Linked DNA regions of Homo sapiens. The protein of the gene in region 1 interacts with the protein of each later gene in a pairwise test. Each region holds a gene or a part of one and is shown in the gene's direction. Other genes may lie near its edges.

The links. Proteins that work in one complex are often made in the same cells at the same time.
Region 2: the proteins of PAGE1 (region 1) and TMEM254 interact in binary tests that used the Homo sapiens proteins (3 or more experiments, as listed by UniProt).

What each region holds. Positions count from the first base shown.
Region 1 is NC_000023.11:49,692,960-49,700,163, reverse strand, and holds the start of PAGE1 (P antigen family member 1), read left to right. Parts: upstream 1-4,179; 5' UTR 4,180-4,295; exon of another isoform or gene 4,296-4,305; intron 4,306-5,385; 5' UTR 5,386-5,393; coding exon 5,394-5,456; intron 5,457-5,962; coding exon 5,963-6,065; intron 6,066-7,204.
Region 2 is NC_000010.11:80,088,637-80,093,058, forward strand, and holds the end of TMEM254 (transmembrane protein 254), read left to right. Parts: intron 1-1,743; coding exon of another isoform or gene 1,744-1,776; exon of another isoform or gene 1,777-1,795; intron 1,796-2,160; coding exon 2,161-2,281; 3' UTR 2,282-3,915; downstream 3,916-4,422.

The sequences.
Region 1 (7,204 bases):
GGATGGCTATAATCAAAAAGATGGAAAATAACAAGTGTTGCTGAGGAGGCAGAGAAAGAAGAACCTTTATACATTGCTCATGGGAATGTAAAACGGGGAAGCTACTGTAGAAAATAGTTTGGCACTTTAAGTTAAACATAGAATTACTCTATGATCCAACAATTCCACTCCTAGCTGTATACTCAAGAGAAATGAAAACATATGTCCATAGAAAAAATTGCACACAAATACACACAGCAACATTATATACGGTGACCAAAAAAGTAGAAAGACCCTAAATGTCCATCAGCTGATGAATTGGTAAACAAAATGTGGTACATCAATATAATAGAATATTATTCAGCAATAATAAAAAATGAAATACTAATACATGGTACAATGTGGTTGAACCTTGAAAACATTACACAAAGTGAAAGAAGCCAGACACAAAAGGCTACATATTGTATAATTCCATTTACATGAAATGTCCAGAATAGGAAAATCCATAAAGACAGAAAATAGAGTTTCTTTTAGGGGTGATGAAAATGTTCTGGAATTAGTACTGATGGTTGCACAACTTTTGTGAATATACTAAAAATACTGAATGGTATACTTTAAAAAAATACTGATTTTCCTTAGGGGCACATTTTCTAGTTACCACTTTTAATAAGTAAGGTATGTCTTCTAACTTTTGCAGTCCTCCTAAATGTACACCCCCAGGCAGCTGTACAAAATGGACCTGCTTTTGGTCTCTTGTCATTGTCTTATGTTCTTCTACAGGCACAGCTTCTGTGTCTTCTATCTCAGTCCATTAGTTATGACTGGCAAATGCTGATAGAGACCCACATAGAGGACTTTAAAGGTTATCCAGGCCGCTTTATAAAATAGACTAGTTCAGGTGATAGAGTAAGGACTACAAAATATGCTAAGGGTTTAGGAAAGGTTTAAAAAATAGTTATGGTTTTTTTCTCCCTTTCCTTCTGCTTTTATTCTCTCTATAGTCTTAGAAAAGATGATTGTTATGGCCTCTGGTTAGTTTTAATCATCTGGGGGAACCCTGAAAGGCCCTAAATTGCAGCTCTAATGTCCCTTTAGCTGTCTCTGCTTCAACATCTACTACTACTTTGCTTATATTTGATTTATCTCAAGCAGGGTCTTCCAAAAGTGTCTGATCAAGCCATCTCCAATAAGCTGGTTGACTTTAAGATGGTAAAAGCTTTACATCTTACCTTTCTCACTGCTCTGAACACTTCGTCAAAGGCCTATTGGTAATATATGTTCTAAACTAGCCATCCTCAACACCAGATACGCATTTAAATAACCTGAGAAATACTTTTTAAATGCTCATGAATAAATGACTAAGCCCCAGACCCAGCTTAATTGTCCTGGGGTGGAGGCTGATAATCGATATCTTTGTGGTTTTTTTGTTTGTTTGTTTGTTTTTGAGACGGAGTCTCACTCTGTCACCAAGGGTGGAGTGCAATGGCACGATCTCGGCTCACTGCAACCTCTGCCTCCCAGGTTCAAGCAATTCTCCTGCCTCAACCTCCCGAGTAGCTGGGACTACAGGCATCTGCCATCATGTCCAGCTAATTTTTGTTTTGTTTTGTTTTTTTGAGATGGAGTCTTGCTCTGTCGCCCAGGCTGGAGTGCACTGGCGCAATCTCGGCTCACTGCAAGGTCCACCTCCCGGGTTCATGCCATTCTCCTGCCTCAGCCTCCCAAGTAGCTGGGACTACAGGCGCCTGCCACCACGTCTGGCTAATTTTTTGTATTTTTAGCAGAGATGGAGTTTCACCGTGTTAGCCAGGATCATCTCGATCTCCTAACCTGGTGATCTGCCCGCCTCAGCCTCCCAAAGTTCTGGGATTACAAGCATGAGCCACCACGCCCAGCCTAATTTTTGTCTTTTTGTAGAGATGGGGTTTCACCATGTTGGCCAGGATGGTCTTGAACTCCTAACCTCAGGTGATCTACCTACCTCGGCCACCCAAAGTGCAGGGATAACAAGTGTGAACCACTGTGCCCAGCCGAAAATCAACATTTTTAAAATGTTCTACCAGGCAATTCCAATGGGCAGCCAGGGTTGATGAAAACTGCACCAAAAACACAGCTATTAGAATGATCAAAATCCAGATCACTGACAACAACAAATTCTGGGGAGGACGTGGAGCAACAGGAACTCTCATTCGTTGTTGGTGGGAATGTAAAATGGTAAAGCCAATTTGAAAGGCAGTTTGGCAGTATTTCTTACAAAACTAAACAAACTCTTACTATTCAGTCCAGTAGTTGTACTTCTTGGTATCTACCCAAAGGAGTTGAAAACTTGTGTCTGGACATGGATGTTTATAGCTTTTTTAAACTAGCATCTTTAAAGGCTTTCCCAGATAATCTCAACATCTCTGTCTTTGCATTGGTGTCAGTTGTCTGTCTTTCTCCATTTGAAATTCCATAACTTCCTTTTTTTTTTTTGAAATGGAGCCTCACTCTGTCACCCAGGCTGGAGTGCAGTGGCACGATCTTGGCTCACTGCAAACTCTGCCTCCCGGGTTCAAGGAATTCTCTGCCTCAGCCTCCCGAGTAGCTGGGATTACAGGTGCCCGCCACCATACCCAGCTAATTTTTGTATTTTTGGTAGACATGGGGTTTCACCATCTTGGCCAGGCTGGTCTTGAACTCCTGACCTCGTGATCTACCTGCCTCAGCCTCCCAAAATGCTGGGATTACAGGTATGAGCCACTGCACCTGGCCAAGATGCCTAACTTTCATGCTTCTTCGTATTCTGAGTAATTTTGAATTATATGCTGGACATTTTGAATATCAGGTTATGAGACACTTCAACAATTTCTTTTTGTTTTGTTTTAGACACAGGGTCTCACTCTGTTGCCCAGGCTGGACTGCAGTGTGTGATCATAGCTCACTGCAGCCTTGAACTCCTGGGCCCAAGGGATCCTCTTGCCTCAGCCTTCACAGTAGCTAGGACTACAGGCATGTGTCATCACACTCAGCTATTTTTAATTGTTTTTTTGTAGAGACAAGGTCTCACTATGTTGCCCAGGTTGGAAACTCCTAGCCTCAAGCCATCTATCTTCTTACTTCAGCACGCAAAAGTGCTAGGATTATTGGTGTAAGTCACTGCTCTTGGCCACACAGAACAATTTCTATTTCTCTATCTTTGAGTTCACAAACTCTTTTCTTGTCTCCATTCTGCTATTGAATCCATTTGGGGAGAATTATTTTCCTTCGTTATCATATTTTCCACTTCTAAAATTTCCATTTGCTTCTTCTTTAAATATTCTTTTTTTGTGTGTGTGCCAGGACTTTGTTTTTACTTGTTTCAACAGTGTTCATGATTGCTTGTTTAAGCATTTTTTTTTTAGACGGAGTCTCACTGTTGTCCAGGCCAGAGTGCAGTCGCGTGATCTCGGTTCACTGCAACCTCTGCCTCCTGGGTTCAAGCAATTCTCCTGTTTCAGACTCCCGAGTAGCTAAGACTACAGGTGCGCGCCACCATGCCCAGCTAATTTTTTGCATTTTTAGTAAAGACGAGGTTTCACCATGTTGGTCAGGCTGGTCTCGAACTCCTGACCTCAAGAGATCCACCCGCCTCGGCCTCCCAAAGTGCTGGGATTACAGGCATGAGCAACCGCGCCCAGCCTAAGCGTTTATAAAATAGCATCTTTAAAGGCTTTCCCACATAATCCCAACATCTCTATCTTAGCAGTGATGTCTGCTGATTGTCTTTCCCTATTTCAGTGGCCCTATGTTCCTGGTTCTTCATATTCTGAGTAATTTTGAATTATATGCTAGACATTTTTAATATTTAGTTATGAGACTCTTAGTCTTGTATAATGCTATGAGGTATGTTGCTATTTCTGTTTTAGCAGGTCGTCTACCTCACTTCACAGGCAGCCACCATGGTCCTTGTCCCTATGGCAGGGCCAGAGCAAGAGAGGGCCCTGGAGGGGAGGGGGGCTCAGTTGAAGATGGAATGAGTTTTGAGGGGAGCACTATTTGAGGTATTTGAGTACCCGAGGCATATGAAACAGCAGAGGGAGGTCGGATTCCATTATCTTCACGGGGATGAAAATCGGGAGTGTGGGGTGTGGGGCTGGGAACTGCAGCCCTCCCCACCTTTGGGTGCTAGCCTCAGTGCGCATGTTCACTGGGTGCCTTCCCGTCGGCCCCTTCGCCCACGTGGAGAACGCCAGGGAGCTGTGAGAGTGTGCAGTCGCGTTCCTGCTGTCCGGACACTTTTTTCCTCTACTGAGACTCATCTGGTAGATCCGCAGGCCAGTCCTCCCAGGGGCTGAAGTGTGAGTGAGGGTGAGGAGGAGCCAGTGGGCTTCAGGCGGAGCCAGTGGGCTTCGGGCAGGTTCGGTGGGCCCCTCGGTCTGGTGGTGTGTGGCTTTTGAGGGAGAAGGGCCTCAGTGGCCTCCAAAAGAGAAGGGCCTCGAGCTCGTCCTCCTTCTCCTCACAGGCTGCGACGCCGCCATCGGCTTTGTGGTCGTGAAGGGGCCAGGACAGGGAGGAAAGTGGGCCATGAAGGGGAAGCGGTCAGGGGCTCAGGTGAAAATGAGGCGAGTGCTGCGGGTGCTGTTGGAGGGGTCAAAGTCCCGAGGTGGTAGGAACCCATGACACAGGGCACATTCCTGAGTCCTGAATGGGGCCCCGAGGCGGGAGGTGGGTGGTGAAGATGGCGGTAAAGAAGGGGCCTGGAACCTGGGAAGGCTGTGGGCTGGTGAGCGCCCCCCAGCGGTGTGGAGTGGGGAGTGCCCGAGTGAGAAACACCCGAGTGAGAAGCGTGGCAAGGTCTCACCTCTGCCATAGAAGGTCCGGAAACAATGGGAAGGACTGGGAGAGGCTGTGTGGCCCAACCAAACTTGATTTGAGGGGGGTGAATGGCTCTAGTAAGTGGGAGTGTGCCAAAAGCAGCAGTCACGGGAATTGTGATTCACTAGTGTTTTCATGTGGAGTCCGCTTGTGAAACTAAACCTCATCAGAAACGTCCTCTGTCAGAGGGGCGCAGTGGTGCGCGCCTGTAGTCCCAGCTACTCCGGACGAGGCAGGAGGATCGCGTGAGCGGGAGGTCGAGGCTGCAGTGAAGTGTGATCACGCCACTGCATTCCAGCGTGAGCAACAGAGCGAGATTCTGTGTCTAAAAGAAATTTTAAAATAATGTCCTCTGCCTTTTGCCACATGCCTTAAGATGACTACTCTGCCAGCTTGGGGAGCATAAGTGGCTTTGCAAGCACTCAGAAAACGTACACACTTGCACTTAACTCTGGGACTTATTTTGAGAGTATTTTCAAAATTAAAATGACAAGTTAACATTTAGCCATGGAAGTGATCGAATATAGCTGTCCTCTCAAGTGCATGTTCCCAATCACAATTTTCTCTTTTCAGTGTGAAATATGGGTTTTCTAAGAAGATTAATCTATCGGCGTAGACCAATGATCTATGTAGAATCTTCTGAGGTAATTGGGCCTATGCTGTTGAGTGCTTTAACGTTAATTCGATGTTTTCTATTAGCAGAAATTAATTTTTGTGATAGTGTTGTTGCATTAGTATAGATACACTAATAAAGGTAGTTCATGCTGATTAAAAAAATAAGATTCTGGTATCTCATGAAGGAAATATTGATTCAGGAGGATTTTTTTTTTCTCTTGTGTTCTCCAACTTTTGGCCATGACTTCTTTCTCATGCTTTGCTTGTGAATGACACATAGATTATACACATCTATTCCAACATAGAGTGCAATAGCTTCCAAAGTCCTTGTGGGTAACTTTTCTCGCAGTAACCTTTCTGTGGGTAGAGTAGCCTTATTAACCATATAGAATAAAGTTGGAGAAATATTTTTAGGTTTAGTTATGATCAGAAACATCTATGCATTCTCTGTGTGTATACGTATATATTTTTTGACATGTATTAATAACAAAACTTTTTGTCTTTGCACACTCACACACATATTCCCTACCACAAGGAGTCCAGTGATGAGCAACCTGACGAAGTGGAATCACCAACTCAAAGTCAGGATTCTACACCTGCTGAAGAGAGAGAGGATGAGGGAGCATCTGCAGCTCAAGGTGAAGGGAAAGGGAAGAAGAATGCCTGTTGGGGTGTGTGTGTGTGTGTGTGTGTGTGTGTGTGTGTGTGTGTGTGTCTCATGCATTGTCACATACCAGGAACAGGAGGAATGAAAGCCATGCAAACGATGCCTAGAAATTGACTGGAAAAGTGAAGAGGGTATAGTTTGCAGCTTACCTTAGGGAAATAAATCCCTCACTATGATAAAATTTCTCCACTTTATGAATGAGAGAATGGAGGCCCGGGGATTGTGTTTTGTCCAAGAACACTTGACTGGTGAATACAAAATTTGTGTTTTGTTCCAAAGTTTGTGTCTTCCTACCATCTATGTTGCTGTAACAATAGTAAATGATTTTGCTGAAAGTGCTTAAAACTCAAATGCTTTACTGTAATGTAGCTTAGTACTGGCCCAGGAATAGACCCAGTTCAGAGGAGCAGGAGCAACTCCAAAAACTGAGTTCCTGATTGCTGGCCACCATTTCCTTTGATATTTTTATGTGGTAAGTTTGTTGAAAGCTGGAGAATTCAGGATACTGCCATACAGGTAGCTGGTGTAGTATGATTTTTTAAGTGGCTTTTAGGAGGTGATTAAATCCTTTTATGGTTAGAAAAACCAAAAAAAAGGAATTATCCTGAGATTAACATGAGATGGAAATAATTTCTCCGAGATAAAATATTTTGAAGCAAAACAATTATCTAACTCAGGTCATGGATTATTCTAAGGATTCACTGTTAAAGGTATCTAGAATAAGACTGACAACAATGCCCATTAATTGCTGTCCACTCATTCCTTTGTTCTCAGCGTGAGACAGTATATTTGCTGTAATTCACAAATAGTGTTATTTTTGGTGCTTTGTTCTACATGGGGTTCATTTATGGAATATTACATTTAGGACCTTTGGACCTAAATATAACTTTATTTGAACAAAGTTAAGTTTCTGTTTACCCCAGTAGACAATGGGTGTCGTGACTGTAAGATTTTCCATAGTCCTCAAATCCATCCAGCTGCTCAATCCTTCAGAAACTGACACTGTAATTGTAACTGAAATCCTATCCATGATGTAGACTTCAGATTTCTCAGCTGATGCACACTGCTGTTGGTACTCTATGGCCGAATATAAGTATTATACATGTCCTG
Region 2 (4,422 bases), on another chromosome or scaffold:
AAAAAAAGATGGAGGGTCTCCAGGAGGCTGAGGCAGGAGAATGGCATGAACCCGGGAGGCCCCGGAGCTTGCAGTTAGCTGAGATCATGCCACTGCACTCCAGCCTGGGCGACAGAGCAAGACTCCGTCTCAAAAAAAAAAAAAAAAGATAGGGTATCATTATGTTGCCAAGGCTGATGTCAAACTCCTGGGCTCAAGCGATCCACCTGCGTCGGTCTCCCAAAGTGCTGGAATTACAGGCCTGAGCCACCACACCTGGCCAACTTTTGTTGTTGTTTTTGTTTTTGTTTTTTGAGATGGAGTCTAGCTCTGTCGCCCAGACTGGAGTTCAGTGGCATGATCTTGGCTCCCTTTGTTTCATTTCATTTTCTAATTGTCTGATGGTACTTTGTATGAATATAGTCAATTTTTTATATTGACCTTATACCCAGCAATCTTGCTAAATAAATTTATTAATTGTAACAGTTTATAGATTATTTTCAGTTTTTAGGTATAAAACTGTCCAGAAATACAGTTTTATTTCTTTCTTTCAATTCTGTATACCTTTTATTTATGTTTCTTCCCTTATTCTACTAGCTAGAACTTCCAGCAGTGCTGACTAGAAGTGTGCCTTGTTCTTGACCTCAAAGGAGAACTTTCAACATTTTGCATCATGTTTATTATAGAGTTTTGTAGATCTCCTGTGTCAAAATTAGGAAGTTCCATTGTATTTCTAACTTTGCTGAGAAGTTTTATTAAAAATGGATGTTGGATGTGGATGCAGGTGGCTCACACCTGTAATCCCAGCACTTCGGGAGGCTGAGGTGGGAGAATCAGTTGAAGCCAGGAGTTCAAGACCAGCCTGGGCAACAAAGCAAGACACTGTCTCTACAAAAAACAAACAAAAAACCTAGCCAGGCATGGTGGTGCGTGCCTGTGATGATCCCAGCTACTTGGGAAGCTAAGGTGGGAGGATAGCTTTAGCCCAGGAGTTTGAGGCTGCAGTGAGCTATAATTGTACCAGTACACTCCACTGTAGGTGACAGAGTGAGACCCCATCTCTGGGGGGGTTGGAAAAAGAATGGATGTTGAAATTTGTCAAATGCAGCCGGGCGTGGTGGCTCACGCCTGTAATACCAGCACTTTGGGAGGCCGAGGTGGGTGGATCACGAGGTCAAGAGATCGAGACCATCCTGGCTAACACAGTGAAACCCCATCTCTACTAAAGAAATACAAAAAATTAGCCAGGCGTGGTGGCGGGCTCCTGTAATCCCAGCTACTCGGGAGGCTGAGGCAGGAGAATGGCATCAACCCGGGAGGCAGAGCTTGCAGTGAGTCAAGATCGCGCCACTGCACTCCAGCCTGGGTGACAGAGCGAGACTCCATCTCAAAAAAAAAAAAAAAAAGAAATTTGTCAAATGCCACTTCTGCATTTATTAAGATATTCATATGATCTTTCTGTTTTAATCTGTTACTGTAGAAAATTATATTGCTTTTACATATATTGTTTTTAAAGTTTGTTTTAAATAAAAGTCATCCAAGTGAGACTTATTTATGTACAGATGAGACTGTAGCAAGCCATTCCCTTCCATTGGGTCATCTTTTTTTTGCACTTCATTTTAGGCAGTTGAATTTGAATGACAATATAAGCAGGTGTTTATCATGACTGTGTGCCAGGCTCCTTCCTGAGCATGTTGTGTGTATTATCCCATAAATCATCTCAACTGACTCAGTGAGATAGCTACTGCTGTTCCTGTTTTTCAGATGAGAAAACTGATTCTGAGAGATTCTGAGTGATTTGCCCAGGTCACAGCTGGTAGGTAGCCACGCTAGGATTTATATCTGGTCTATTTGCAAAACATTTGCTCTGAAACCATACCAGTGCTTTTTACTCCATCCGCTCATCAGAATCACATGAGAAACAGTCTTATAATACTGTGCCCTAGACAGTAGCCAGACTAGTTCTCAGGGAATAGTTTACCATCCAAAATACATTTGTTAGAAAACAAGAAAGATGAAAAATAAATGAACCATCCAAGATAAGCCAGAGAAAAGCAGCAAAATAAACCCAATGAAAGTAGTGGAAGGTATAATTTAAAAAATATATATATAGAAGACAATAACTCCCATGAAACTGTAAGATTAACATCTCGTGTTTAAATTTTGTTTTTTCTGTTTTAGGCATAAAGGCATCACAAGTGGTCGGGCTCAGCTACTCTGGTTCCTACAGACTTTCTTCTTTGGGATAGCGTCTCTCACCATCTTGATTGCTTACAAACGGAAGCGCCAAAAACAAACTTGAAGTTGTCTGAAAGCTTGCTCTACACTTTTACATTCATCCTCACCCTTTTTTTTGTGGGGTAGAGGAGGTGCAGTAATTTACTCAGTGATCTTTCTACTTTCTAGAAACTGTCCTTCAAAGCTCTTTAAGACCCCCTCGTTAGTCAGTTTTTTCTCTTATATGCTCTGGTTGAGCTTGAATAGACCAGTTGTTACTTAAGAAAGAAACAGAGAAAGATTTTAGCTTTTCAATCCTATTTGGCAGAGGACTTCAGCTACCTTCTTACAGTCTTTGGCTGTGTTGGTACCCTCGTGTGCTCTGAGCTAAGCCACATACTAAACTGACTTTTTGGTTTGTATACCCTTGCTCCCGCCTTCTGATGAAAACACCTTACCCTCACAACCACCATCTTTCCTCTCCTTTCCAAAGCTCTTTCCACCTTGCTGCACTAAGATAAAGTGACACTTCCACTATATGTCAATTCCACACACATTTATTAGGTACCTGTGAGGTAGGATCCTATCCTCTCAAACTTCCATTTCTCATGCTACAGAGAAAGATAAGGAAGATGAGCAAGTGCCTGGAATGGGGCAGGCTGAGCAGTCACACAGGCATAGAGGCACGCTGAGAACCTGGAGGGGAGACTGCAGAGTGCCTTCCCTGATGCTGCAGCCGGAAGTGATCCTTCCCTCCACCTGGCCCCTGGGACACTGTGCTCTGCAGTGTGCAGGGCCTGATGGCACTGCTAGATTGCTCCTTCAGCTCAGGGCCACAGCTTAAACAGCTTTACCTTTCCCCTCAGCACCTGTCCCACTATCTTGCACACAGGTGCTCTAACCATGTTTATTGAACAAAGGAGGGAAACTGATTTCACTTTCACTTGTTCATTATCATTCCAATTTTTATGTGAAAATGGCACAACCCATTTGGGGTACCCTCACCCCAAAATAAAAGCCCAAGTCTACCTTTGACTGGTACCACCTTTTTTGTGGTTTCGTTGGTGAGAAACCTTTATCTTTTTCATACCTTTCTATTCTCAATCACTTCTCCAAAAGTGTGTCTTTCCAGCTCTGATTTATTCAAAACACAAGCATTTCTGTTTAGAGATTCTAGCCCATGGGTTATCTGGCTAGTTATTACCTCTCCTGTTCACTTAGTTATACTTTATTATTGCTCACAGGCTGGGGAGGCAGAATGACTCTGTCACCACTAGGAGCCATTAGGGCTTCTTCCCTGGAGGACTGCCTGCTTGCTTTCTGGGGACACTAGCCCTCATTTCCCTTCTGTGGTACAGTGGGGCAAATTATTTGTATTAAGCAAACATTTATGGGAAACAACCCGCTCCCGAAAACGGAGCCCCCAAGTAAAGCACAACCCTGAAAGATTATGAACTATGAATTGTCTCTGGTAGAGATAAATTTCTGCAAACATATCTCAGTCTTCCCTCTGTTTCTCTGGTGATTAAGAAGTTCCTTTTTGGTAAGGAAAAGGATTTTTAACCATAGAGTTAGGCATCATGGAAATTCAAACCAGATTTCTTAATACCTGGTCTTCCTCAAAGAGAAATAATAACAGTAATAGTGGTGCTGGGAACAATATGGCAGATTATTGAATGAAATTGATTAACTTGAATAAAATGCTGTGAATTTTCTCTAGCTGAATGCTTTTCTTGTATTTGTCAGTTTTAACATATTGATGCACATTTGATACTTTTTCTCAAATAGACTACTAGGGAACTGTTTATACACTTCAGATATCAGTTTGTTTTTCACTGATAAAGAAATGCAAAACACTGTGGTTGTCGGGTATATACGTACTATATTTTAGAACTGTCCATGTCCCACTTACCTCCTCCACATACAAGGAATCACTAGGGTGGACCTGAGTGTCTCCTTTTCATTGTAGGATTGTCTCCTTTTTGTTTCTGTTTTTATTCAACATTTGATAAAGTCTATGCACTAAGTAAGGAGTGTTCTGGCATTTTTTTAAATGCATGAAGTCCGGTATGCATCACTTAACAATGGGGATGCCTTCTGAGAAATGCACTATTAGGTGAGTGCATTGTTGTGCAGATATCATAGGGTGTACTCACAAACCAAATGGTAGAGCCGACTACACACCTAGTTTATATGATACAGTCTGTTGCCCCTAGGCTACAAACC